Linked DNA regions of Homo sapiens. The protein of the gene in region 2 interacts with the protein of the main gene of each other region in a biochemical or structural test. Each region holds a gene or a part of one and is shown on either strand. Other genes may lie near its edges.

Region 1 (7,025 bases), on a different chromosome or scaffold from region 2:
ATAAAAATATTGCAAGTTATTGATGACATTTGTTGATTTTTTTTAGCTTAAAATTTAGTAACTCTGGGTTTGAAGGCCACGGTTATTTTTGTTCTATGCATGTTTGTGTTTTTATTTTGCCAAATAGGAAAGTTAGATTGTCTTTTCTGTCTTTGGACATAAGTGCATGGGAACACCATGGTATCACTTTAATTGGTGGATGCTATTAAAGGGACTAAATTCTGTCTAAAAATACCATGCTGGTGTTTATGATAAATTTAATGAAAAGAGCTTGTCATGAAACAGGCACAGTATCTAAATTTTAGGAAAACGTAGGTGCATACATATGAACGAAAAACACAGAGCATATATGAAAATATAGTGGTCATTGGGTATTGGGAATGCAGGTAATTTTTTTCTAACGTATCTTTTAGTGAGCAAATATTTTGTAAAAAGGAAGAAAAATTGATCTCTTTAGTGTGATCTCTTTGAGACATGGGCTTGTTGGTGAATAGTACTCACTGCACAGTGGTTTGGTAAGGTTTCAGTGCACAATGACAATTTATGATACTTTTAAGTATCTTTTTAAAATCTGCATAATTCAAACTGCTTCCTAAGTTTAGTGATGTTTATTATGAGGAAGAGGAAACAGATAAATCCTTGTAATGCCATCCATCTAACGCTTTTCTCCTTGTTTCGGGCCACCTGCTCAATGTGTGATGTATTAAAATTGCCTTCTAACTTACTGTCCTGCTTCTGCCTTCCTTGCGTGTTCTCCTTGCATACAGGGATGGCACATGGGAACTCTGCCTCTAATCTCAATCCCTTTGTAATGTGGACACATGGTAGTCCAACTGATAATCCGCTTTTACCTTGGTGATTCAGTTGTTTAAAGAAAAGTTTTTCTGTTGTGCATGGTGGCCCACCCCTGTAATCCCAGCACTTGGGGAGGCCGAGGTGAGTGGATCACTTGAGCCTAGGGGTTCACGACTAGCCTGGGCAACATGGCAAAACCCCATCTCTACAAGAAATACAAAAATTAGCCAGGCAGGCAGTGGTGGTGCATATCTGTAGCTGCTCAGGAGGCTAAGGTGGAAGTATTGCTTGAGCCCCAGAGGCAAAAGCTGCAGTGAGCCAAAATTGCACCACTGTACTCAAACCTGGGCAACAGAGTGAGACCCTGTCTGAAAAAAAGGAAAAGAAAAAAGAAAAATTTTGTCAGAGGCTTCAGAAATGAATCATTCTCTTGAGCATTTGCTTACTTTAGACAGGGTCTCCCTCACCTAGGCTGGAGTGCAGTGGTGTAATCATGGCTCCCTGCAGCCTCAACCTCCTGGGCTCAGGTGATCCTCCCACCTCAGCCTCCCTACAGGCACATGCCACCACGCCCAGCTAATTTGTTTTTGTATTTTTTTGTAGAGACAGGGTTTCACCATGTTGCCCAGGCTGGTCTTGAACTCCTGGGCTCATGTGATTTTCCTGCTTAAGCCTCCCAAAGTGCTAAGATTACAGGTGTGAACCACCATGCCCAGCCTTTTTTTAAATCTATCACTAAGATTATATGATCACTATACTCTGGTTGTTTATGAGCATTTAAATTAATTTTTATATAAAAAATTAAAAAGTTAGCATAGTCTAGGTGGAATTCCTTCCGTTTTCTCTGTTCTTTGCTGTCCTCCTGATCAAATACTTAGCGGAGCACTTGGAAGCTTTTAAAGTCTTCTATGGAGATTAATTTTTGTTTGTTTGTTTGTTTTGTTTTGTTTTTTTTTTGAGATGGAGTTTCACTCTTGTTACCCTCTTGTTGCGATCTCAGTTCACCACAGCCTCCACCTCCCAGGTTCAAGCAGTTCTCCTGCCTTAGCCTCCTGAGTAGCTGGGATTACAGGCATGTGCCACCACGCCCAGCTATTTTGTATTTTTAGTAGAGACAGGGTTTCTCCATGTTGGTCAGGCTGATCTCAAATTCCCAACCAGGTGACAGCCCGCCTGGACCTCGCAAAGTGCTGGGATTACAGGCATGTGCCACCATGACCAACTAATTTTGTATTTTTAGTAGAGACGGGGTTTCTCCATCTTGGTCAGGCTGGTCTCAAACTCCTGACCTCAGGTGATCCGCCTGCCTCGGCCTCCCAAAGTGCTGGGATTACAGGCCTGAGCCACCACACCCGGCTGGAGATTAATGTTTTAAACTGATGCGTCTCCCTTATCATCCCCACAAAAAAGGAGAAACTCAGAATATTTGCTATCTTTCTAATTTTCATAGCAGTAAATAGTGAATATTGAGCACTTAGTACTACTTTTTAAGCACTTTACATGCACTGTACATGGGTATTATAATAGCTTAGTCTTTATAATCTTTAAAATATGAGGTTAAAGAGAATTTTAGAGCTGAGGTAATAAAGACATAGAAATGAAGTAATATTCCAAGGCTAAGCAGCAAAGGGCAGAGTTCACACCCCTGACTATTATATTAATTGACTGCTAGTACCGTAACTTCTAATTGCTACAGTAACTGGTTTCTGCCGTTTGTTTCTTTCTGTTTGCTGTGTATACACAAAGATGAAATGGTCTGGTTCCTTCCTACTTTCAGCTTCATCACACTTCACTGAAAAAGGTCATGTTTTACAATTGGAGTGTAGAACAAACTCTGATGTGCGTTTCAGTTCTAGCTATGTGATCTTAGGCTAGTTAATCTTATTTGTAAAGTGGCAATAAAATTGGTACCTACCTTTATAAGGCTGTGAAGATTAAGTGAGAACATTTACAAAAGGGCACAGTGAGTAGTATGTGTTAAGTATTCAGTGTTAACTTTTGTCTACTCTGAAGGTATTGCCAGACATTGAGCTTTCTCACCAAAACAGTAATAATAAGGTTTACTTGTGTCTGCTTTTATTGGACATGATATATTTAGATGCTGCCTCTTTGCTTAAAGAGAAAAGTTTGCCTACCAGGCTTTCTTCTCACGGATTCTAGGCTTGAGGTTTATTCTGTATAAATTATTTGGCCAGGTATGTTTTTCATCAGATTGTTACTTTGAAACAGAAGCTTAGGCTTATTTTCTGCGAAGCATTTCCCACGCAAACTTAGTGACATTTTAATATGAAATTATTTGCATTAATACCATTCTAAAAAATGTTTTCTCTTTTTTTCCCATGCCTATTGCAAATTTTGTGCAAAATCTGGTTCTTAATCATTATTACATTGGTTTACCTTTGCATCACATATGAATAGCTGTACTTTGCTACTTTTGACTAATACTTTTTCTTCCAAGAGTTAGAATATCATAGCATAATGTTTCAAGAGGATTATTGTTAGATTGGCACAATAGTTAAAGGAATGCTTTAGGACAAATGTCTGAAATGTGATATTTAAGCTTGGTCCTAGATGTCCATGTTGAGATTTCCTGGGAATAAAATGGCTTAGTTGGGCATTGGACAGTGTAGTTAAGTAAACCCTATCTTGACAAAATGATTCAGATATGTGCTTATATTCTTAGGTGACCGGGTTATTGATGTGGGATCTGAATGGCGAACTTTCAGCAATGACAAAGCAACAAAAGATCCATCTCGAGTTGGAGATTCTCAGAATCCTCTTCTGAGTGATGGAGATTTGTCTACCATGATTGGCAAGGTAATAAGTCCATTTGGCAGGAAATACCAATTGCAGAGTGACCATAGACCTGAGAGTTTGGGAACTTTGCAAAAGTATCAGTCACTGCACCAGTGGGGAATCTTGACCTGTCTAATAAGATTTGCCAGTAATATCATTGTGAATGATGGCTAACTTGTGTGTGTATTCCATCTTAAAGTGGGGAAGACCATTAAATCAAAATTATAAAGCCTTTATATCAGGCCTTTTTTCATAAATGACATTTTCTGTACACACAAAAAATGAGTGTAGTGTGGCCTTCATGAGTTAATATTGATATGTTCTTTGAATATCAAGAATGTCTTCTCAGCTGGGCATCATGGCTCACACCTGTGATCCCAGCACTTTGGGAGGCCAAGGCAGGCGGATCACAAGGTCAGGAGTTCGGGACCAGCCTGGCAAATATGGTGAAACCCCATCTCTACTACAAAAAAAAAGGAAAATAGAAAAATTAGCCAGGCTTGGTGGCGGGCACCTGTAGTCCCAGCTTACTCGCGAGGCTGAGGCAGAAGAATTGCTTGAACCCAGGAGGCGGAGGTTGCAGTGAGCCAAGATCGCGCCACTGAACTCCAGCCTGGGCAACAGAGTGAGACTCTGTCTCAAAAAAAAAGAAAAGAATGTCTTCTCTTTTCTCTCTATACCACTTAAGATAAATGGGAGGTTAGTGTAACCTCTTTTCTGATATTAGTGAATTTATGACTTACCTAACTTTACATTCCTTATCTGTAAAATGAGAATAAGAGTACTTATAGAGTTTTTGAGGGTTTCATGAGAATGTATGTAAAGTATTTATATAACATGTATTGTATACTGTGTGCTCAGTCAGTGGTAGCTGCTATCATTGTGTAAGGCAATAGTATAGTTTTCTTGGCAGCCTGATTCTCACTCTGTTATCCGAGTTGGAAGTAATAGTGACGGTATTACTGAGGGCTAATCAAGGAAGTATACACCATTTTATAACTTCATGTATACTATTGCATAGTCTCTTTTTTTTTTTTTTCCAAAAAAGTCTTGTTTAAAATCTGTCTGGCTGGGCACAGTGGCTCATGCCTGTAATCCCAGCACTTTGGGAGGCCGAGGTGGGTGGAGATCAGGAGTTCAAGACCAGCCTGGCCAAGATGGCGAAACCCCGTCTCTACTAAAAATACAAAAAGTAGCTGGGCATGATATGATGGTGGGCACCTGTAATCCCAGCTACTCAGGAGCCTGAGGCAAATAATTGCTTGAACCCGGGAGGCGGAGGTTGCAGTGAGCTGAGATCGCGCGACTGCACTCCAGCCTGGGCAACAGAGTGACACTCTTGTCCAGGCAGGTCTTGAACTCCTGGTCTTCAGCAGTCCTCCCGCCTCAGGCACCCAAAGTGCTGGGATTACAGGCATGAGTTTACCATGCCGAACCCTGTATAGTCTGTTTTGTTTTTGAGACGTTCTAACACTGTCGCTAAGGTGGGAGTGCAGCAGTAGCTTGATCTCGTCTCACTGCAACCTCCACCTCCCAGGCTGAAGCGATCCTTCCACTTCAGCCTCCCAAGTAACTGGGACCACAGGTGTGGGCCACGACACATGGCTAATTTTTGTATTTTTTGTAGAGACAAAGTTTCGCCATGTTGCCCAGGCTTGTCCCAATTCTTGGGCTCAAGTGATCCACCCACCTCGGCCTCCCAAGGTGCTGGAATTACAGGTGTGATCCACCATCCCTGGGCAAGATAGAAATATTTTTAAGCTGCTAGATTTATCACATAATAAATTTCTATGTGTACTTGGGCATATTTCTCAACTTTCTATCTTTTCCTGTCCTGGTCCAGTTAGTCAAATGCCATACAACACTGTTTTAGTATTTAGTAGCACTAGTTTTCCCTCATTGCTCTTTTTCAGCATTTTCTTCGCTAGTCTTTTCCATTTAAAGGTTAAGTTTGTTTCATTTTTTAAAAAAATTTAGGTTTGTTCACTTGCATTTTTTGTACCTTTGGAGTTGATTAAATGATTTTCCTCTTCAGCTCTATTAATATGATGTTTTATGTTATTAGATTCTTTAATATATTTGTGGAACAGTCTCCACTTGGTTGATATTACTGCCTTTTAATACCCTGTTGGATTCTGTTTCCTGTGGGGTTTTTTGGTTTTCTTCTTTTGAGACAGGGTCTCTTTCTGTCACCCAGTCTAGAGTGAAGTGATGTAATCATAGCTAACTGCAGCCTCAAACTCCCAGGCTTAGGTAACCCTCCTGCCTCAGCCTCCTGAGTAGCTGAGACCACAGGCGTGTGCCATCACACTCGGCCTGTTTTGTTTTGTTTTGTTTGAGACAGAGTTTCGCGCTTGTCACCCAGGCTGGAGTGCAATGGCACGATCTCTGCTCACTGCAACCTCCGCCTCCCAGGTTCAAGCGATTCTCCCGCCTCAGCCTCCCAAGCAGCTGGGATTGCAGGCATGTGCCACCACGCCTGGCTAATTTTGTACTTTTAGTAGAGGTAGGGTTTCTCCGTGATCATCAGGCTGGTCTCACACTCCCGACCTCAGGTGATCCGCCTGCCTCAGCCTCCTAAAGTGCCAGGATTACAGGCATGGGCCACTGCGCCTGGCCTGTTTTTTAATATTTAATATTCTCACTGGGGTTTTGGTCAGATTCATTTGCAAATTGACACAGGGAAAATTGGCTTCTTCATAATAAATCTTGTATTCAAAAATTCATAATGCCTTTCCATTTCCTTAGGTATCTTATGTGTCCTTCAGGAGATGTTTGAAAGTTTTCTTCATGAACGTCTCACATGTTTCTCAAGTTTATTTCAAGATTTTTGTTGTTGTTTTAATTGAAAAATTTGCTTTCCTTGTCTTTTAAGTTGGTTGATTGTACTTATGAAGGGTATTGATTTCTATTTATCTTGACCTTGCTGCTTTAATGAATTATTTATAGCAGCTGTTTTTTAGTGATTTTCTTGCATATTCCAGGTGTATAAAGGTACTATCTGCAAATAGTTTATCACATCCTTTCCAATTTTGTACTTCCGGTTTTTCTCTTGCTTAATACTATTGGCTAGTTTTTCCAATCAGTGTTACAAAATGGTAGCAGTAGGAGGTACCTTTGTCTTGTGATTTTGGTGATAATGCTGGTAATGTTTCTCCATTAATCATAGTACTTTCTTTGGGCAGAGGAGAGTGGTTTTCTAATGTAAAGAAGTACTCATTTGTAGCGTCCTATGAGTTTTTATCAAAGACGAATTTTGATTTTGTTCATTTGCCTTTTTAGCGTCTTTGGAGATGATCATGATTTTTCTTCTTACATCTATTAATATAATGTTTTACATTATTTGATTCTCTAATATCTTGTGGAACAATCTCTAGTTGGTCATGATATACTACCTTTTAATATGCTGTTGGATTCTGTTTTCTAGTATTTAA
Region 2 (7,242 bases):
CTCAAGTAGCTGGGACTACAAGCGTACACCACCACGCCCAGCTAACTTTTTATAGTTTTTGTAGATAAAGGGTTTTGCTATATTGCCCAGGCTGGTCTCAAATTCCTGGGCTCAAGCAATTCGCCCACCTCGTCCTCCCAAAGTGCTGGGATTACAGACATCAGCCACTGCACCCGGCCTGCCATAAGCTCTTCTTGAAAGCTTCTTTGGAGGTTCTAGCAGGGGAGTACAACCATACATATACCCTTGACTGAAGACCAGTCCTCCTCTATCCGGATGGTCATCCTCTTTGGTCAAGCGTGCAGCTTCGGGAGGGACATACATGGAGCAGTGTGGGAGGAAGGAGACACCCGCCTAGCCAGCCAGATTAGCCAAATCAACCCTAGTAATCAATGGGGTGACAGATGTCCCAGACAGATCACACTCACATCCATTTTTTTTTTTTGAGACAGGATGTCACTCTGTCGCCCAGGCAGGAGTGCATGCAGTGGCACAATCTTGACTCACTGCAACCTCCAAATAGGCTTTTCTTAAACGTCACCTTCTTTATGATGTCTTCCCAGTTCTGGTGAAGCACTAATTTTTTTCCCGCTCAAAACTCTCAGAGATCTTGTATGTATAGTTCTTACTGTATTTACACAGTTCTATACCTGTCTAGTGATGGAATTAAATATGTACAAGATGATCTATAAACCGTGAGATATCCTAGGAAGAAACATTATTTAGCAACAAAGATCAGAACTCAAGGTATTATTTTTAATAGGAAAATTAATGTAAGGAGAAAAAACTTGAAATCAATATGTACTTCAATTCAAATTCTGATTAGATGAGAATGAAGATACACTTTCTAAGCAACAAATTACACTTTTTTTTAATTTATTTATTTTTTTGAGAAGGAATTTTTGCTCTGTTGCCCAGGCTGGAGTGCAACGGAGCAATCTCGGCTCACTGCAACCTCCGTCTCCCGGTTTCAAGTGATTCTTCTGCCTCAGCCTCCCAAGTAGCTGGGACTACAGGCGCACACCACCATGACTGGCTGATTTTTGTATTTTTAGTAGAGATGGGGTTTCACCATATTGGCCAGGCTGGTCTCGAACTCTTGACCTCATGATCCACCCACCTCGGCCTCCCAAAGTGCTGAGATTACAGGCGTGAGCCACCATGCCCAGCCCGATCCTGTGATAATTTTCTAATTGTGACTCTGGTTACCCTCCCCTCTAATTCGTACTGCACACTGCCAAACATTTTTTTTTTTCCTGAATAAATATCTGGCATCTCTACCTCACTCAAATCCTCCAAAAAGTTCGTTACTTCCTTGTAAACTAAAGTTAGAATATCTCCGTTTCATGATATGACAATCTGAGTATATGGTCCCCATCTTCATCTACACAGATCTTCTGCTCTAGGTTCTCTCTGTTTTCCACAACACGCCATGCTGATTATATATTTTGAGTCTTGCATTTCTGTTCCATTCCCCATGGTATACACTGTGTCCACCCATCCAAATCCTGTAAGACAAACATTGAGCATTTACCATGCTCCTAGGACAATGGCACCATCTCAAGTCACACCATTTTTTCAAGCTTTTTCCTTCAGTCCGTAAGGGCAATCTCCTCCTTAGTGACTCTCCCCCCAAGTAACATGCTGCTGGAGAGAGAAATGCCTATTTAATCCATCCTTTTAAGTCACACTGAGTTTGGAAATAAGTCAAATGAGTGCCACAGACTAAGGCGAGGGCTGAAGAATGAGAGGTCATGCATTTATTCATCATCTATTTGTTGAGTAATTACCATGCGCCAAACACTATTCTGGGTATGACAGGCAAAGATCCTGTTCTCATGGAATGTGATTCTGTGTGTTGGAAAGACAGAGGTAACCAACTTTGAACATATGAACACAAAATCACTCTACACTGTGAAAAGTGCTTTGAAGAATGTAATACACATCTGTCGTGTTAGCAAATGATCACAAGGGGGCTGTTTTAGGAAGGCCGACAAGAAAGACCTCTTAGATTTAATTGACGAGAACTCAGCCATGTGATAAAACAGTTAAAGCATTAAGAAACCAAAAGTCCTTACATTTTAAGTTTCAACGACTTTCAGGATCACATTTTGAATATGCTTAAGTATTATGAAACTCCCCTAGGAGAAAACACTCCCCAATATGAAACAATAAAGCACAAATAGTGCTTACTGTGAGCTAACCAAAATTGCTGTCTTCACATAAAACGTTTATTGACGGCCAGTTTCACGAGACCCAAATGTGCTCTAAAAGAATACTCCAGTCCAATGACCTCTCCTTCTGTGAGTTTGGGGCTCTCTCGCCTCTTTTGAGAGCTTCATTAAGGACCATCAACCTAAGAGAACACTTTTAAGAGTAGGCAGGGACCAGTCCTACTTTCTGGCCGAGAAAACTGTACAGAAAGTAGACATTCAACTACCTCACGCAGGCTCATGGCTAAAACCAGTTTCACCAAGGGAAGATACAAGGAATTCTTCAGTCTGGGATAAAATGCACCGTCCAAATCTGGGGACACCAAGACAAGATTCCAGGAAAGCCGTGAGAAAGAGATCTAGTCCAGGCAGATTCAGAGTAGTAACTGGCTGAAAGACACTTTGCGTCCCTAAACTAATTCCTCGTCTGCAAACAGATACAACAATGACTCCTGCCTCTCAAAATGTGTGAAGCTCTAACGAGATAGCCGTAAAAGAACTTTAAGAGGCGCACGGAGCGGGATAGGCTCAAGTTACTTAAACTATACTTGTGTTAGGAGGAGCGCAAGTGGGAGACTCGCGAACATTACCTTGACTAGCCACACTCCTGTGTTCTGTTTGGCGCCGGTCAAGTCGAGTTCCCCGCGCTCGGCCATGGGTCTGCAGCCGGTGGAGGCGTGCGGGATGCAGCAGCGACCCCAGGAGCCGCAGGGCTGAGGAGCGGGCGTCCGGAACAAAGGACAAGCCGCGCTGAGAGGCGAAGAGCCGGCGTTCCTTACCTGCCAGAACACTGGGAACCGAGGAAAAGAGGAACACGCCGCCAGGAGCCGGGACTGCGCCTGCGCACTGCTACGTCAGTACGGCGCGCTGTTGCAGACAAACTTTCTGTTTCGGAAATTTCTTGAGTGGGCGTGGCTGTCCGCGATGTCTGCATCTGAGGGATTAAAACGTAGGGTGGGATGAGCTAAAACGTTAGCAATGTATTTAAAGACATGGTCAGCATAACTGAAGAAAAAGATTATCAGAACGGAAAAATGGGGTTCAAAGAGACGAAAGGTGTCAGAACATGTCCAACCCTAGCCAAGGAGAGAGAGACAATATTTGAAGGACAGGGTCAGGGTAGTAAATTGGCGTCCCTGGCCAACGTCATTAGCACAAATGGGCACTGGGATCAAACTTAGTAGCCTTGGGTATATTGAAAACATGCCGTTTCTAGACCTGGAAAAAAAAAAGCCGTGTTTCAGCTCAGAGGCTACCCGAGCTGTTCTGATGAAGCAAGCGGAGCACCTCAGTTTCCAAAACCCGGAAGTCTGTAACGAAACGAACAAGTAAGAGACAAACCTGATCGTTTCCTCCCCTGCTTAAACAGTTTTCTCTTTCTCTTATTGCCTCTAGAATAAAGTTCAATCCTCCTGCTTCAACTGGGCCCTCTCAATTTCATCTCTTTGCACCTCCCACCATCACTCCGCCATGCACCAAACCACATCAAACCCAGCAGACTTCCCTAAACACGTCAGAATCTTCGTCGGTCATTTCAGAGCCTCTGCACACTGGATTCCCTTCCCTTGGAAGCCCTATTTTACCCCTGCCCTCACTCTCACCCCTGTGCTCTGGTTGGCAAACTCCTACTTATGGTTCAAGACCAATGAAAATGTCACTTCCTATGAGATCTTTTATCAACTTCCCCAGAAGAAATTAGTTTTTCTTCACATCACAGTGTGATACTTAGCACTCTGAACTATAATATATATGTTTACATATCTGCCTTTGCTTTCCAGACAATGAACTCCTCCTAGGCGGAAAGAGCTTTATTGAGGTATAATTGACAAATAAAAAATAGTGCTTTATTCATTTTATATCCACAATGTCTAGCACAGTGTTTAACACATTGTCAGGTTTCAGTAGGCTTTGGGTGAAAGAACATTCGCTGAAGAGAAACAAACAGTAAGGTATTGTTAAGAATGGCAAGTAATTTATTGAATCACACATCAGAGCCTTGCACAAAATTGAGGAAATTTTATGTGTGTTCAGCATAGGGCCAGGAAAAGCTGTCAGAACTCTGCTTTTAGCTAGGAAAACTAATAGGAAAGATGGGAGAGACCAGGAGTGTGTTGAAGATGAAAGTTTCAGGCTAGGCTCAGTGGCTCAACCCTGTAACCCTAACTTTGGGAGACTGAGGTGGGAGGATTGTGTCTGCCCAGGAGTTCAAGGCTACAGTAAGTCATGATCGTGCCATGCACTCCAGCCTGGGTGACAGAGCAAGGTCCTGTCTCTAAAAAATAAATACTAAAAACAAAATTTTTTTGGCCAGGCGCAGTGGCTCACACCTGTAATCCCAACACTTTGGGAGACCGAGATGGGAAGATCACTTGAGGCTAGGAGTTCGAGACCAGCCTGGTCAACATAGGAAGAACCCTATCTCTAAAAAAAAAAGAAAAACAAAAAAAAATTTTTTTAAGCAGAAAATGAAGGTTTCTTCTTGTGCAACAACTTGGAAAAGGGCCTTTTTAAAACATATAAAGAGTAAGCAGATTAAGGGAACTGCTCTAAACTTTAATCAAGGAGAAGGAATAAATTGAAATATGAGACCATGGGAGAAGAGAAGCAAAGTCTAGAGCACCCCAGGAATGGACTTTAAAGATTGGAACCCTGGCTTTGGTCTCTGGGTCATGGGAGGCCTTAAAATGTGTACGTGGTGTGGGTATGTGTGTATGTGTGTGTACACAGAGATTGAGAGAGAAAAAAAATGGCTGATGAAAGGGCTAGCGAAGAACGGAAAAGTGGAGATTTTAAAATGATACATAGAAGAAAGAAAAAAACAACGTATTGAGCACCTCTTCCTCGTACGCTGTTGAACAAAGAGCAAGCTTCTCCTGTCTGTCCTTTTCAAACCCCTTCTAGCTTGAAGAGGGATGTTTACAGAACCCTGATAGAAAAGGAGGGCATGGCCCCTATGAACCAAATTCACAGATTTACTGTGGAGACCCTTAAGGTGGATAGATACTACAGGCAGATCCCTCACCTTCCTAAGGACTCATTATATGCCAGATCCTCAGCTAGTTATTTTCTGTATTATCCCATTTAATCCTTATAACAATTTGCCAGAGTAGGTATTATTTTTCCTCAATATAGCCCTATATGTCATTAAACATATCAACATCCAAGAGCTGAGACCATATCCCAGGATGGGGCTCACAGAGCATAGGATGCAGAAGTCAGTGCCCCAGAGAAGGTAACACCAAAATTTTTTACTCCCTCAGATGATTAACTAGTCAAGTTGTTACCAAAATTTTTAAGGCGCAAATGCAATTCTAGGAAGGAGGGCCCAAGAACTCATTGCTGGCTGCAATTTTTCCAAAAAGTCTGGTAGTGCTTAGGCCAACTTGAACCTCCATCTTTATCTAGGGCTTAGATTCTAGGTCAGACCTCAAGGCCACCCAACCTTCTTTGCTGCTTTGTTTTTGTTTTTGTTTTTGTTTTTAGGCGGAGTCTTGCTCTATCACCCAGGCTGGAATGTGCAATGACATGATCACAGCTCACTACAGCTTGACCTTTCGGGCTCAAGCTATCCTCCCACCTCAGCCTTCCAAGTAGCTGGAACTACAGGTGCACACTACCACACCCAGCTAATTTTTGTATTTTTTGTAGAGACGGGGTTTCACCATGTTGCCCAGGCTGCTCTTGAACTCCTGGGCTCAAGCAATCCACCCACCTCAGCCTCCCAAAATGCTGGGATTACAGGCATGAGCTACCATGCCCAGCCCCAACCTGCTTAATAGGCAGAACTACGTTCTTTTTTGTGTGTCTTCCAGACTAGCTGCAGCAAGAAAAACCCCTAACACCACACCCACCACAAAACATGCTTCAGTCTAGATGAGTGTTCTCAGCCTCTGGTTCCTGTACAAGTTGCATTAGAATTACCTGGGGGAAATGTGTTTTAAAATGAAGACACCTGAGCCCCAATCCAGGCAAACAAAATTAGACTTTCTGGATGTGAGTCTAGAAATTGACACTTTTAGCAAGCTCCCAGAGTGTTTCTTAGGCACACCAAAATCTGAGAATCATTGTTCTAAATGATAGAGTTCTAATCGATAGAATTCTAATCGATATTTTTCTAATCAATATAGTTCATTAGAACTGGGCCAGTTTCCAAAGTCTGAGACACGTGAAAAAATTTACCAGAAAGCCTTACAGCTAGAATTCCCTCATGCCTTGTTAATTCAGAACACCACAATTCTATCAGGTAGCTATTAGAGAATAAGCAGCAAAGCCATTAGGCGAGATGTTACAAGTGAGTTGAGGGAATTAGAATGACTTTAACAGATAGCTGAGTTCACTTTCAGATTTTGTCCTTGTCTATCATACACAGGCCTGATCTCTTCAGGCCAGAGATTTTCTTTGTTCACACTTACTCAGAAACATTCTAGCAAGAAAAAGTATTACCTCCAGGAGAGTTCATATAGGCAAAAAATGCTACCACCAGGTCTTTCTTAATAGACCAGACTCATTACCTATTGGTTACTAACATAAACATTGTCATTCAAAAATTACAAATGAATACAGCATTGTGGTAATTCATTCAATTTCCCTGACATCAGTGATGTAGTAGGTAGATAATTTTGCTTCGTTATGACACCAAGGCTATAAAACGTCTCTGAATTCTCCCTGCCTTTCCCTTCAACCCTAACAGTTCCCTCCTTCATAGAATGCCCAAATTCCTGGGAGATCCCTTGTTTCCCCAGTTACACACAAACAAAAAGAAATACTTCCTAAAATAGTTTCCATATTGTTTAGTATAGAGAGAGAGCATGAGCTTTGGAGTCAAGCTTTTTACTATTTTTTTTTTTTTTTTTTTGAGACAGAGTCTTGCTCTATCACCCTGGCTGGAGTGTAGTGGCACTATCTTGGCTTATTGCAACCTCCACCTCCCAGGTTCCAGCAATTCTCATGCCTCAGCCTCTGAAATAGCTGGAACTACAGGCATGCACCACCATGCCCGGCTAACTTGTATTTTTAGTAGGGATGGAAT
Region 3 (7,209 bases), on a different chromosome or scaffold from region 2:
ATATTTAGAGGTCTTTTTGCCTCTTTTCCCCTTAACAAGGATTTCTTATGGTGGTTTCAGTTTCATTTGCATAAAGGTATTGAGAGGGAACAAAAAACATAAAGCTGAGAATCTTGAGAGAGCTCATCTACCCTGTCTGTTGGTCAGACTCAAATGAGAGTTAAAAAAAAAAAAAAAAATCTGTATGCCTGAGTACCATCCTGGATGAATCTAGAAGGTATGGGGTAGAGCTTGACAGGGTTCCTGTGTACCCACTGGGTATCCGTTAGAGGTAAGGGAGAGGAGAGGATTGATAGAGTGTTGCAAAAGTATAGATTATTCATTGAGATAAAGGATTTGGTTTCCCTGCCATGAGTATTAAAAAAATTTAAGTTTTCCCAAGCTTGCATCTCTGACCAAATTTCACATAAAACATTGGAAGGAGGCTGGGTGCGGTGGCTCATGCTTGTAATCCCAGCACTGGGAAGCTAAGGCGGGTGGATCACTTGAGGTCAGGAGTTCGAGACCAGCCTGGCCAACATGGTGAAACCCCGTCTCCACGAAAAAGATAAAAATAAGCTGGGCGTGGTGGCAGGCGCCTATAATCCCAGCTACTCGGGAGGCTGAGGCAGGAGAATAACTTAAACCCGGGAGGCGGAGGTTACAGTGAGCTGAGATCGTGCCACTGCACTCCAGCCTGGGTGACAGAGTGAGACCCTATTTCAAAAAAATAAAAATTGGAAGAAGAGCTTAAAAAAGATAAGATTTTAAAGAGTCCCAAGTTATTTAAGTTGAGTGTAATTGTCATTTAAGGAAGGCAAATGAGTTTATCATCCTTCTTAAAGAGCATCTCTTTTAACTGTTGGACAAAACCATAACTTTGTCATTTTACAAGGAAGAACCTCTTAAGAAGTCCTCAGAACCAGAAGCAATGTGAACTCTCAGCGCTGGTCCTGGTGGGTTTGCTGACCATGACTGGGCAAGCCGTTCTTTTTGCTGCCATCTTCCTCATCATAAAGTGTGGAACATAGGCAATTGCTTTGAGATTCTTGGATAGAAGAGGACAACATTCTGCACCTGCCCCCTTTTTTAAATCTTTGGGGAAAGATGAGTAACTTTCCCCACTACTCTGCCTTCCTGTTCAGTAACTCTTACTTTTGCCTGAAGTAACAGCATCTTCTACTTCTCCATCTAGAGATTTTTGTGTGTGTGCCATCAAGGTTAGCAAACTTTATACGTAGCCTAACACTTAAAAAATGCACTCATTATCTTAAACCTAATAAATTCCAGAGTTTATTTTGGTTCTCCTCTGTTGCCCTTCCTAAAAAATGAGCTGAAGATGACAGTATTTTTCTTTACATGCTTGGTTATGACTTTTAAAGTTTTATTTAAATAAATGTTGAAGCTCAAGTTTAAAGAAGCGTTGCAGAGGCCCACGGTCTCCTGGGTCCCGGCCACCTGTCCATATTCCACATTTGCTGACTGTGCTCCCTGCACTCCACTCAAGTTGAGAGTTCAAATAGTCTTGAAGGGGAATCAGCTTCAGGATGGAAGGACCCAGGAGAGGCCCCGAGGTGGGAGGGTTCTGTAAATACAGACTACTGCGAGTGTCCAGAGCTCTCTGCCATGATACTTCCTTGGGACTGACTTGGCTGAGAACGTGTTCTGTCAGAGGATTTGTTAGAACTCTGCCCTTTTGTCTGAAACTCAAGGCCAAGGAGAATGATAGGAGACTTAGGACAGAGCTGACCCTTGCACCAGGCTGGGAGGCTGCAGCCCTTTTAGATGCCACTTACTGTAAGTGGCCAGAATACCAGAGAGGTGGGTTCCATGGTCAAATGCACAGTAGGTGTTTACCTTTACATTTGGATCACCTTGTAGTCTTTAAATTCTTGGTCCCTGAGGCCAAGTCCACAACTTGCCTTCTAGTCACTTGCCTGCCCGCAGTGGTGGTGGATGTGTTAGCTGGTAGATTTGGAATCAGTCACCAGTCTTTCTGTACTGTCTTGGTTAGCTCTATATAAGTAGGGGCAGCTTAGCCCTGAGGCCCAGAGACCTGCTGTCCTTTTTCTCCTTGAGGGAGGAAATAAAACTGCGGAATACAATGTCCTTCCATAGCATGGGAAGAAGAAAATAAACATCTCCTTTCCAACAGCTGTGACTTGTGTGTGTCGTATAGAACATTTTCCTGTGGGAGTGGTACTGGGTCTCCATTTTCAGCTAGGGGAACCTTTGAAGTGTTTGAGCTAGGTCTCTATAAAAGAATGGATGGGACAGGCTGCCATGGGAGTCATTCTTTTATGACCTTTTCAGTGTCAAAATTGGGGCAGTGTTACTTTAATACTCAACCATTTGCACAGTCATCTGTCAGGAGGTACTGTCTATAGCAAAAGGAGAACACGTCCTGTGGGTCCCTAGTTCTGCCTTTGGAAGACATGGCTAATGGCTCAGGTATTCTTACTGCCTTTGCATGGAAAGGCTAGAAAACTCCTGTATTTTTTTTTTTTTTAAAGACAGGGTCTTGCTCTGTTGCCCAGGCTGAGTTGCAGTGTTGTGATCACAGCTCACTGCAGCTTGGAATTCCTGGGCTCAAGCAATCCTCCCACCTCGGCTTGAGTAGGTGGGGCTACAGGCTGGAGCCACTGCTCCTGGCGCCAACTTCTGTATATCTCAACACTCACGATTCCCCAAGGAGAAAGAAAAAACATACTTTTATTCCAGCATCCAGTATGCCTTGTGTATACCAGTTTTAAAGTTGTTGGTTTCATCTCATTAAATAATAATGAAGAGTCCTCTGAGGCAGCAGGAGGATGTGATGGAGAGTGGCAGAAGTCAGGGTCAGGAGACCTGAGTTCTATGAACAGTGGCAGCAACAGCAACCATTATTGGGCGCTTACATGTACCAGGCAGGCACTGTGCTAAGTGCTTTACATGTATGATCTCACTTCATGAGGCAAGGATACTCATCAGTAGTCTCATTTTACAAATGAGGAAACTGAGGCTCAGAGAGTATAAGTCATTTAGCCAAAATGTCCCAGCCAGGATTCTTTTGGATGCGCTCCCCAAAATCTGTCTTCTAACTCCTACCCCATACTCCCTCCACTGGGAGCCTTGTGACTTTGAGCAAGAAGCTTCATCCCATTGGGCCTCGGTTTACCATTGGAAAGGATTTGTGGGCGAGGTTGAATGAGCGCAGCAGATGGCCTGTGGTTATTTAGAGCAGTGCTTCCCTGGTTGTTTGATATCACAGCGCTCATACTTGTGTGGCCCAGTGAAATGGAGGCGGAAACTCAAAGTTTCCACCTTCACAGGGCCTGACTGGAAGGGGCTGAAGGATGATGGGGAGGTTTCTTGTATTCTTAAAACAGACTACCCCTTCCCAACGCACAACCCCCAGTAAGTGGCCGTGGGTTCCCAAGCGCCTCTCCTCCCTGGGCCATGGGCGTGACTGCTGAAAAGCGGGTTAGGCCGGGGAGTTCAGAATCCGGAGTGAATCCGAACTACCCCAGGGAGACGGCAGCGAAGAAAATCTTGTTCTTAGGAGAACGCAATCTTCGGACACCAGAAGTTCCTCTATGATGCTATTCTGTGGCAGCCTTGCACTTGAGCCGGATGAAAATTGTAAAAACCCAGGTTGGGCGACAGGACGGCGCGTCTTCCCGGCTCCTTTCCAGAGTTTAGGAGGAGCCATGCAGACTCAGCCGGCCTTTGGGGGTAGGTGGACAGGCCCGGCGCGCCCTCTCGAGGCCCCTTCAACCTCCCGGGGGCAGCAGCGCCGTGTCGGCTATGAATGGGGCCTCTGGAAAACTCAGGCTTGGAACAGGTAACCCCCCGGTTTCCGCAGGCCACAAATCACCACCCGCAACCGAAGGACGCGCAGGCTGGGAGCGGCGGCGGGGCCACCAGTGCGGACCTCCACTGAGGGCGGCGGGATCCGACCGCAAGGGCTGGTCCCTGAGGCCACTAAGGGGTGCGCTGGGCTAAGGCCGCCTGGGGGCAGGAGCCAGCGCGATCGTGGCGGGCCAGCAGGCGGGGCTGGCTGAGGACTAGCAGCGACCCGAGACCCCAACCCTTCCCACGCGGACCCCGGGATCCCTCTCCCAGCAGCCGCCCATCTAGGGCCCTGAGCCAATAAGAGCTCGAGATATATATGATTCACCGGGCCTGGGCCAATCACCTTGACGCGCGCTCTTCGCCAGCACCTCGCGCGATAACCTGGCGTCCTCGGCCTTCACAATAAAAACTCTTCGCCGGAAAACGACCTTTCCCCGCCCACTGCGCTGACACCGGAAGCGAGGCGTGTCTGGGAGATCACTCCGCGCTCCGGCGGCGAAGGAAAGAACGGACTCTGATCATAGAAGCCTAGTAAAGTAGTACACCTCTCTCCTTTCGTGAGGCCATAAGAACAAACTCCTTTTCTCGTCACAGCTACGCCCTGGGCATAAACGGTTGGGGCGTCAAAGGGAGGGAGGGAAGGGAGCGGGCGGGAGGAGACGGTCACGTGGTCGCGGCGGAAGGATGCGTCTGTGCTGCGTCCCCATAGAGACGAAGTCTATAAAGGGCCGGCGGGCGGCCACGGCAGCCATTTCTACTTTGCCCGCCCACAGATGTAGTTTTCTCTGCGCGTGTGCGTTTTCCCTCCTCCCCGCCCTCAGGGTCCACGGCCACCATGGCGTATTAGGGGCAGCAGTGCCTGCGGCAGCATTGGCCTTTGCAGCGGCGGCAGCAGCACCAGGCTCTGCAGCGGCAACCCCCAGCGGCTTAAGCCATGGCGTGAGTACCGGGGCGGGTCGTCCAGCTGTGCTCCTGGGGCCGGCGCGGGTTTTGGATTGGTGGGGTGCGGCCTGGGGCCAGGGCGGTGCCGCCAAGGGGGAAGCGATTTAACGAGCGCCCGGGACGCGTGGTCTTTGCTTGGGTGTCCCCGAGACGCTCGCGTGCCTGGGATCGGGAAAGCGTAGTCGGGTGCCCGGACTGCTTCCCCAGGAGCCCTACAGCCCTCGGACCCCGAGCCCCGCAAGGGTCCCAGGGGTCTTGGCTGTTGCCCCACGAAACGTGGCAGGAACCAAGATGGCGGCGGCAGGGCGGCGGCGCGGGCGTGAGTCAAGGGCGGGCGGTGGGCGGGGCGCGGCCGCCCTGGCCGTATTTGGACGTGGGGACGGAGCGCTTTCCTCTTGGCGGCCGGTGGAAGAATCCCCTGGTCTCCGTGAGCGTCCATTTTGTGGAACCTGAGTTGCAAGCAGGGAGGGGCAAATACAACTGCCCTGTTCCCGATTCTCTAGATGGCCGATCTAGAGAAGTCCCGCCTCATAAGTGGAAGGATGAAATTCTCAGAACAGCTAACCTCTAATGGGAGTTGGCTTCTGATTCTCATTCAGGCTTCTCACGGCATTCAGCAGCAGCGTTGCTGTAACCGACAAAGACACCTTCGAATTAAGCACATTCCTCGATTCCAGCAAAGCACCGCAACATGACCGAAATGAGCTTCCTGAGCAGCGAGGTGTTGGTGGGGGACTTGATGTCCCCCTTCGACCAGTCGGGTTTGGGGGCTGAAGAAAGCCTAGGTCTCTTAGATGATTACCTGGAGGTGGCCAAGCACTTCAAACCTCATGGGTTCTCCAGCGACAAGGCTAAGGCGGGCTCCTCCGAATGGCTGGCTGTGGATGGGTTGGTCAGTCCCTCCAACAACAGCAAGGGTGAGTGGGCCACCACCACATCGTCCTGGTGGGATCTAGGGTTAGGGGCCTCCTACCTTTGTATCTGACTCACTTGGCCCCATCACTCAAATGTTTTGCAGAGGATGCCTTCTCCGGGACAGATTGGATGTTGGAGAAAATGGATTTGAAGGAGTTCGACTTGGATGCCCTGTTGGGTATAGATGACCTGGAAACCATGCCAGATGACCTTCTGACCACGTTGGATGACACTTGTGATCTCTTTGCCCCCCTAGTCCAGGAGACTAATAAGCAGCCCCCCCAGACGGTGAACCCAATTGGCCATCTCCCAGAAAGTTTAACAAAACCCGACCAGGTTGCCCCCTTCACCTTCTTACAACCTCTTCCCCTTTCCCCAGGGGTCCTGTCCTCCACTCCAGATCATTCCTTTAGTTTAGAGCTGGGCAGTGAAGTGGATATCACTGAAGGAGATAGGAAGCCAGACTACACTGCTTACGTTGCCATGATCCCTCAGTGCATAAAGGAGGAAGACACCCCTTCAGATAATGATAGTGGCATCTGTATGAGCCCAGAGTCCTATCTGGGGTCTCCTCAGCACAGCCCCTCTACCAGGGGCTCTCCAAATAGGAGCCTCCCATCTCCAGGTGTTCTCTGTGGGTCTGCCCGTCCCAAACCTTACGATCCTCCTGGAGAGAAGATGGTAGCAGCAAAAGTAAAGGGTGAGAAACTGGATAAGAAGCTGAAAAAAATGGAGCAAAACAAGACAGCAGCCACTAGGTACCGCCAGAAGAAGAGGGCGGAGCAGGAGGCTCTTACTGGTGAGTGCAAAGAGCTGGAAAAGAAGAACGAGGCTCTAAAAGAGAGGGCGGATTCCCTGGCCAAGGAGATCCAGTACCTGAAAGATTTGATAGAAGAGGTCCGCAAGGCAAGGGGGAAGAAAAGGGTCCCCTAGTTGAGGATAGTCAGGAGCGTCAATGTGCTTGTACATAGAGTGCTGTAGCTGTGTGTTCCAATAAATTATTTTGTAGGGAAAGTACTTGTGCGTTTGAATTCCTTTCCTGGCAAAGTAACCGAGTGAAGCGCCACCCACCCACCCCAAGCTGGTCTTAACATTTCCTGTGAGATCTGGGGGAGGAGGCAGTCCAAGGCTGAAGATCGGTTCCCAGAGTGGGATTTGCTCATCCCTGCTCGGTGTAGGCCACGATGGCTGATTCATGGGGCCCTGGAGCCGTATAGTTGGCCATTTATAGTAAGCTGGGTCCTTTGCCCAGAGCTGAGTGCTGGTTGTGTAGGGGGAGGAGGCTGGAGATCTCTGGGAGATTCAGAGGGAGGGACAGCCTGGGCCTCCACCTGTTTATTCAAGAGGGCTTCATGCCAACAGCTGTCGCATAAAACCCTGAATAAGGTTGCACGGTCTTTGAGATAGCACACAAGATTAGGTTTCACTTGTTACCTGAACAGTTCTGCAGAAGCCTCATCCTGAAGAAAGAAATGGCTCCTTTTGGGAATTGATGCTGAAACAGGACAGGAGCTGAGGGTTGGCCTCCGTTTCTCCTTA
Region 4 (7,025 bases), on a different chromosome or scaffold from region 2:
TTCATAAAATACTTTCATGCCCTCTACCCTAACTCCTTGATTCAAGTCACCTTGACTGTACTGGATGGAATGTTAGGCCATCTCTTCCACAGGCCATCTATTGAGTCAACTAGTTTCATTCAGAATCCAGGTGAAATTCAAGAGTATCATGATCAGTCTCCCAAATACTGATATATAAGTAGTGGAATCATCTCCTTTTAGAAAGTTTAATTAAATTAATATGACTCAAATGACAAATAAATGTAGTAGAAGCATGTTATTTTAGATTACTCTAAGGGACTGGATAACACCTTCTACTGTGGTCAAGAGTGATGAAGCCTCCACTGTTAAAACCAACATCTGTAGAGAATTACAAAACCAAGAACCCAGAGCTCCTGTAAGAAATCTGTTAGAGTGAATGGCAAGAATCATGAGACTTTTCTAGTCTATTTTGAAGAGCTCCAGATATATTCTACAACCTTCCTCTATAGAACACTCAAGCAATTCTCATACCGAGGATGGTTAAGACTTTCTTATAATCAAGATCTCTCCTTGTGGAGCCCTTTCAAGGTAAAAAGCTCGGCTCAGACAAATTAAATGTTTAATACAATTGTGAATTCCTTAAATCAGTTTTCATCCAAAATCATTGCCTCACAGTAAATAAGAAAAAAAGGTCACAGATTGCTTCTGGCTCTTTTTGTCAATAATCTTAATTTATATTGGGGTTATTTCCCACTTAAAAATTTTTTTTAATTATTTAAAATGTACCATATATAACATAAAAATTAGAAAATAAAACATACACAGAAATCTGTAATTTTGCACAACCAAATATTTCATGGGTCAAAGTTTAAACTTTCAGACGAAGTTTTTAAAAAAGCAGATCTATGAACTAAAAAGTAGCCTATACTCCTGAATTCAACCATAACAAAGGGACTTAATCTAATTTAATAGCACTGAGTCCTTCTATAGATTTTTACCTGTAGAAAATAAGACAAAATTGATCGAGTATTTAGCAAAACTAGTCTCTTTTTTATTGTGTAAACAGATAACAAGATAAAATAACTATATAACTCAGAACTTTAAAGTTTCTCATGTTTATGCTAGACATATTGTATTTTCAGATAATGCATGCTTTCTAAATTGTGTTATGAAAAATCCTTAAAACTATTCAATCAAATCAGGCCAATTATATATCTTGTTGACAATTTTCTTCCAACAATAATGTGTATCTAAAGGACACTAAATGTCTTATCTTGGAAAGAATTCCCCTCTTATTTCATCTAGCTAACTCTTACTATCTTTTAGGTCTCAAATGTTAACTTCTTCCAGAGGCCTTCCCCAAATCCAGATTATATGCCCTAGTTATATACTCCTGATACCACTTTCTACTTCCACTAACAAAGCATTTAAATACACTGTATTGCAACTGTCTAGAGGTCAAAAATAAAATTAGAACAGCCTCAAAGTGGTAGAGAAATCAACCCTTCAGATTAGGCTGCAGTTGTAAACAAGGTGGGGTGGGCAGAGGCAGGAGGGCCATAAGTGAGAAACTCCCTTGTAAAGGAGAAACGCTTTGCAAAGGCTTCTCAAAGTAGTGCGACAGCCAAACAGGACAGTAAGACTGACTGTATGCTGTGATTTACACTGATCCATTCACTTTTATAATAATATATATGATGGTTTAAAAATTAGATGAATCAATTTAAGAAAAAAGGTAATACACACTTTATTTTAAAGATTCACAAACTGGATAAACCTCACCTGTCATAGGATCAAAGAGCTGATTAGCTTCTAAGTCTGTGAAAGTACTACTACAGACAGGACATTTGAAGGAAGCCCGGTTGGTCGAATCTCTCTCATCGGTCTCAATTCTTCTTCTCATGTGGTCCAGTTTATATTTTACCACATTAACAAGAGTACGATAATTGATGAAGTAGTAGTTATGGCGAGTGGTTTTCCCGTCTGCAGCAGTCTCTACCCTCATTCTGCATTTGATAAACTTGTCTCCCTTTAAATTATTCAAAACTGATCGAAGTTGCTTCCGATCAAACTTGAGCAGCTCCAGCATATCCTCCTCTTTCACACAGGAGTTCCTGATCAAGATGTCCAAGGCCAAGGCATGCTCAATGCCATAAAATCCCCGGATCACATACTTGGCTAACCGCTTCAATGCTGCTGGAACTTCAGTGAGGACATCTGGGTCTGCCATCTTTAGCAACGAACTCCAACTTTAAATATACTGAATTCAAAAAAAAACAGAAAATTAGCCAGGTATAAGAACATGGTAATCATATCCACTATCCTTGCAGTGCCAGAAAAGTACCCAAAGTGTTTAAAAAGATTTCTAATACCTAAGCATTTAACAGAGCAGAACAAGATTTTCCTCTAGAATGCACAAAAGATTACACCCAAAAAGCTTTACATATTTCTTAAATGGCTACTTTTATGATCTATAGTGTGTTTGATTAAAAAGTAACTTTTTATTTATAAAACAATATATTACGTCAAGTCTACTTTACTTCAGAAGAGAAACACAAAAAAAGCTACATGAAATGCTCACTATTCTTTGGGAATGCTGGAAACCCTGAGAAAACTAGCAGTTCGCATTTCCTAAAAGTGTCTTTGTTTCCTTTCTTGAGTAAAATTTTTCTACCAAGATTCTAGGATGTTTTACATAGTCATGCTTTCACAATAAAATCACAACAAACCAATAAACACATGAGTAATCACCACCTGGGGTGTTTGACAAAATCATTAACTGTTGTAAAACTGAAAGAAAGTAATACTTAGATCCAGACAGTTTTACCAACCTTGAAAAATTGAATCTGATAATCAAGGAAAGACCATCCAGTCCTTAAAAAGGTAGAAAATGAGGGAGGGAGAGCAGCCCAAAATATTCTTAAATACTGGATCCCTTGACAAAGCAGAAACTAAGTGTATCTCATTTCCGTACCATGACCCAGAAAGCTGTCTTCTCAAAGCCCACATTGGCATATAGTTTACTTTAAAAACCTGGGCTTCGGGCAGAGACACAACCAAAAAGGAGAATTTTAGACCAATATCCTTGATGAACATTGATGCAAAAATCCTCAATAAAATACTGGCAAACCGAATCCAGCAGCACATCAAAAAGCTTATTATCCACCATGATCAAGTGGGCTTCATCCCTGGGATGCAAGGCTGGTTCAATATACGCAAATCAATAAATGTAATCCAGCATATAAACAGAACCAAAGACAAAAACCACATGATTATCTCAATAGATGCAGAAAAGGCCTTTGACAAAATTCAACAACTCTTCATGCTAAAAACTCTCAATAAGTTAGGTATTGATGGGACGTATCTCAAAATAATAAGAGCTATCTATGACAAACCCACAGCCAATATCATACTGAATGGGCAAAACCTGGAAGCATTCCCTTTGAAAACTGGCACAAGACAGGGATGCCCTCTCTTACCACTCCTATTCAACATAGTGTTGGAAGTTCTGGCCAGGGCAATCAGGCAGGAGAAGGAAATAAAGGGTATTCAATTAGGAAAAGAGGAAGTCAAATTGTCTCTGTTTGCAGATGACATGATTGTATATCTAGAAAACCCCATTGTCTCAGCCCAAAATCTCCTTAAACTGATAAGCAACTTCAGCAAAAAGTCTCAGGACACAAAATCAATGTACAAAAATCACAAGCATTCTTATACACCAATAACAGACAAAAAGAGAGCCAAATCATGAGTGAACTCCCATTCACAATTGCTTCAAAGAGAATAAAATACCTAGGAATCCAACTTACAAGGGATGTGAAGGACCTCTTCAAGGACAACTACAAACCACTGCTCAATGAACTTAAAGAGGATACAAACAAATGGAAGAACATTCCATGCTCATGGGTAGGAAGAATCAATATCGTGAAAATGGCCATACTGCCCAAGGTAATTTATAGATTCAATGCCATCCCCATGAAGCTACCAATGACTTTCTTCACAGAATTGGAAAAAACTACTTTAAAGTTCATATGGAACCAAAAAAGAGCCCACACTGCCAAGTCAATCCTAAGCCAAAAGGACAAAGCTGGAGGCATCACGCTACCTGACTTCAAACTATACTACAAGGCTACAGTAACCAAAACAGCATGGTACTGGTACCAAAACAGAGATATAGACCAATGGAACACAACAGAGCCCTCAGAAATAACGCTGCATATCTACAACTATCTGATCTTTGACAAACCTGAGAAAAACAAGCAATGGGGAAAGGATTCCCTATTTAATAAATGGTGCTGGGAAAACTGGCTAGCCACATGGAGAAAGCTGAAACTGGATCCCTTCCTTACACCTTTTACAAAAATTAATTCAAGACGGGTTAAAGACTTAAATGTTAGACCTAAAACCATAAAAACCCTAGAAGAAAACCTAGGCATTACCATTCAGGACATAGGCATGGGCAAGGACTTCATGTCTAAAACACCAAAAGCAATGGCAACAAAAGCCAAAATTGACAAATGGGATCTAATTAAACTAAAGAGCTTCTGCACAGCAAAAGAAACTACCATCAGAGTGAACAGGCAACCTACAGAATGGGAGAAAATTTTTGCAACCTTTTCATCTGACAAAGGGCTAATAACCAGAATCTATAACGAACTCAAACAAATTTACAAGAAAAAAACAAACAACCCCATCAAAAAGTGGGCGAAGGACATGAACAGACACTTCTCAAAAGAAGACATTTATGCAGCCAAAAAACACATGAAAAAATGCTCACCATCACTGGCCATCAGAGAAATGCAAATCAAAACCACAATGAGATACCATCTCACACCAGTTAGAATGGCAATCATTAAAAAGTCAGGAAACAACAGGTGCTGGAGAGGATGTGGAGAAATAGGAACAGACTTTTACACTGTTGTTGGGACTATAAACTAGTTCAACCCTTGTGGAAGTCAGTGTGGCGATTCCTCAGGGATCTAGAACTAGAAATACCATTTGACCCAGCCATCCCATTACTGGGTATATACCCAAAGGACTATAAATCATGCTGTTATAGAGACACATGCACACGTATGTTTACTGCGGGACTACTCACAATAGCAAAGACTGGGAACCAACCCAAATGTCCAACAAGGATAGACTGGATTAAAAAATGTGGCACATATACACCATGGAATACTATGCAGCCATAAAAAAGGATGAGTTCATGTCCTTTGTAGGGACATGGATGAAATTGGAAACCATCATTCTCAGTAAACTATCGCAAGAACAAAAAACCAAACACCGCATATATCTCACTCATAGGTGGGAATTGAACAATGAGAACACATGGACACAGGAAGGCGAACATCACACACTGGGGCCTATTGTGGGGAGGAGGGAGCGGGGAGGGATAGCATTAGGAGATATACCTAATGTTAAATTACGAGTTAATGGGTGCAGCACACCAACATGGCACATGTATACATATGTAACTAACCTGCACATTGTGCACATGTACCCTAAAACTTAAAGTATAATAATAATAAAATAAAAATAATAAAAATAAAAAATAAAATAAAATAAAATAAAAACCTGGGCTTCGGGAGGTGGAGGTTGCTGTGAGCCAAGATTACACCATTGCACTCCAGCCTGGGCAACAAGAGCGAAACTCAGTCTCAAAAAAAAACAAAACAAAAAAACAAAACAACACAAAACTGGGCTTTGAAATTCAGAGTACACAGCCTGTGTTTTGGTAACTGTGTAATCCTGAGCAAATCCCTTAAACAATTTCAAGCCACCTTTTACTCGCTAAGAAGTAAGGATAGTATCAACTACCTCAGTGGAGTTGTTGTGATTAATAAGAATATAATTAAAGTGCTTAGGAAGGACAGCTTCCATATCAACTTAACATGTTCCAAACTAAAAATGGCTAGACTATCCACACAGATTAAATCAAGTTAAATTTCCCTAGGCCACAGGGAATTTGTTTTTCTTTTCATAGAGAGAGTGTCTTGCTCTGTTGTCCAGACTAGAGTTCGGTGGTGTGACTTGGCTCAGTGCAGTCTCAACCTCCTGGGCTCAAGCAATCTTCCCACCTCAAACTCCCCAGTAGCTGAGACTACGGGTGGACACCACCATGACTGACTAATTTTTGTGTTTTTTGTAGTGACAGGGTTTCACCATTTTGCCCAGGCTGGTCTCGAACTTCTGGGCTCAAGGGATCCACCTACCTTGGGGGCTTCCTAAAGTGCTGGGATTACAGATGTGAGCCACCACACCCAGCCCACAGGATAATTTTTTTTTTTTTTGGAGACAGGGTCTCGATCTGTCACCTAGGCTGGAGTGCAGTGGCGCAAGCTCGGCTCACTGCAACTTCTGCCTCACAGGTTCAAGCAATCCTCCTGCCTCAGCCTCCTGAGTTGCTGGGACTATAGGCATGCACCACCACGCCTGTCTAATTTTTGAATTTTTAGTAGAGACAGGGTTTCACCATCTTAGCCAGGCTCCACAGGATAATTTTTAAGAGAGACATCCCATTGAACTATTTCAATGGAGAATCATATTCTGTTATTAATACTAGTTTCAACTAACCCTTTTATTTGAAATCAGTGGTTATCAACCCAACAGATTTAATACTCTTTTTATAAGAAATATTTTTATATCCACAGTACCATACTATAAGGAAACTCTATACACCAATCTATAACCAATCTATGCATATATTTTGGGGGGAAAATATAAGGCCCTTCCTGTAATAAAGGAAAAGTAAAAGTCAGTCAAAAGAAAATACGTACTTTAGGTTATAAATACTCAGGTATGACTACATATTGTAAGATATAACAAAGTAGCACCTAGATCCAAATCTGTGAACTTAGAGCCTTCCTGCTACCCCAGGGCTTAAGGATGCCTGGGAAGTACCTGGGCTCGACACCAAAGTAGTACCACAGCATACTACTGGACACACTTTTCTCTCCTTTTCGGTTTGGTCTATACATTGTACTTGAACCCCGTTTTCATTTTTTGTTGTTTTACATCCTCAACAGTTGTCAGAACACAACATATGGCTTCAGAAACATTCA

What was found.
Region 1: the proteins of GTF2F2 (region 2) and GTF2B form a complex in vitro, tested with the Homo sapiens proteins (2 studies listed by BioGRID and IntAct).
Region 3: the proteins of GTF2F2 (region 2) and ATF4 form a complex in vitro, tested with the Homo sapiens proteins (one study listed by BioGRID).
Region 4: the proteins of GTF2F2 (region 2) and GTF2E1 form a complex in vitro, tested with the Homo sapiens proteins (2 studies listed by BioGRID).

What each region holds. Positions count from the first base shown.
Region 1 is NC_000001.11:88,860,568-88,867,592, reverse strand, and holds part of GTF2B (transcription initiation factor IIB), read left to right. Parts: intron 1-3,478; coding exon 3,479-3,612; intron 3,613-7,025. UniProt on the Homo sapiens protein: General transcription factor that plays a role in transcription initiation by RNA polymerase II (Pol II). Involved in the pre-initiation complex (PIC) formation and Pol II recruitment at promoter DNA.
Region 2 is NC_000013.11:45,116,283-45,123,524, reverse strand, and holds the start of GTF2F2 (general transcription factor IIF subunit 2), read right to left. Parts: upstream 3,016-7,242; 5' UTR 2,870-3,015; coding exon 2,804-2,869; intron 1-2,803. UniProt on the Homo sapiens protein: TFIIF is a general transcription initiation factor that binds to RNA polymerase II and helps to recruit it to the initiation complex in collaboration with TFIIB.
Region 3 is NC_000022.11:39,516,000-39,523,208, forward strand, and holds ATF4 (cyclic AMP-dependent transcription factor ATF-4), read left to right. Parts: upstream 1-4,562; 5' UTR 4,563-4,752; exon of another isoform or gene 4,753-5,354; 5' UTR 5,355-5,446; coding exon 5,447-5,672; intron 5,673-5,773; coding exon 5,774-6,603; 3' UTR 6,604-6,684; downstream 6,685-7,209. UniProt on the Homo sapiens protein: Transcription factor that binds the cAMP response element (CRE) (consensus: 5'-GTGACGT[AC][AG]-3') and displays two biological functions, as regulator of metabolic and redox processes under normal cellular conditions, and as master transcription factor during integrated stress response (ISR).
Region 4 is NC_000003.12:120,745,719-120,752,743, reverse strand, and holds part of GTF2E1 (general transcription factor IIE subunit 1), read right to left. Parts: intron 2,222-7,025; 5' UTR 2,192-2,221; coding exon 1,744-2,191; intron 1-1,743.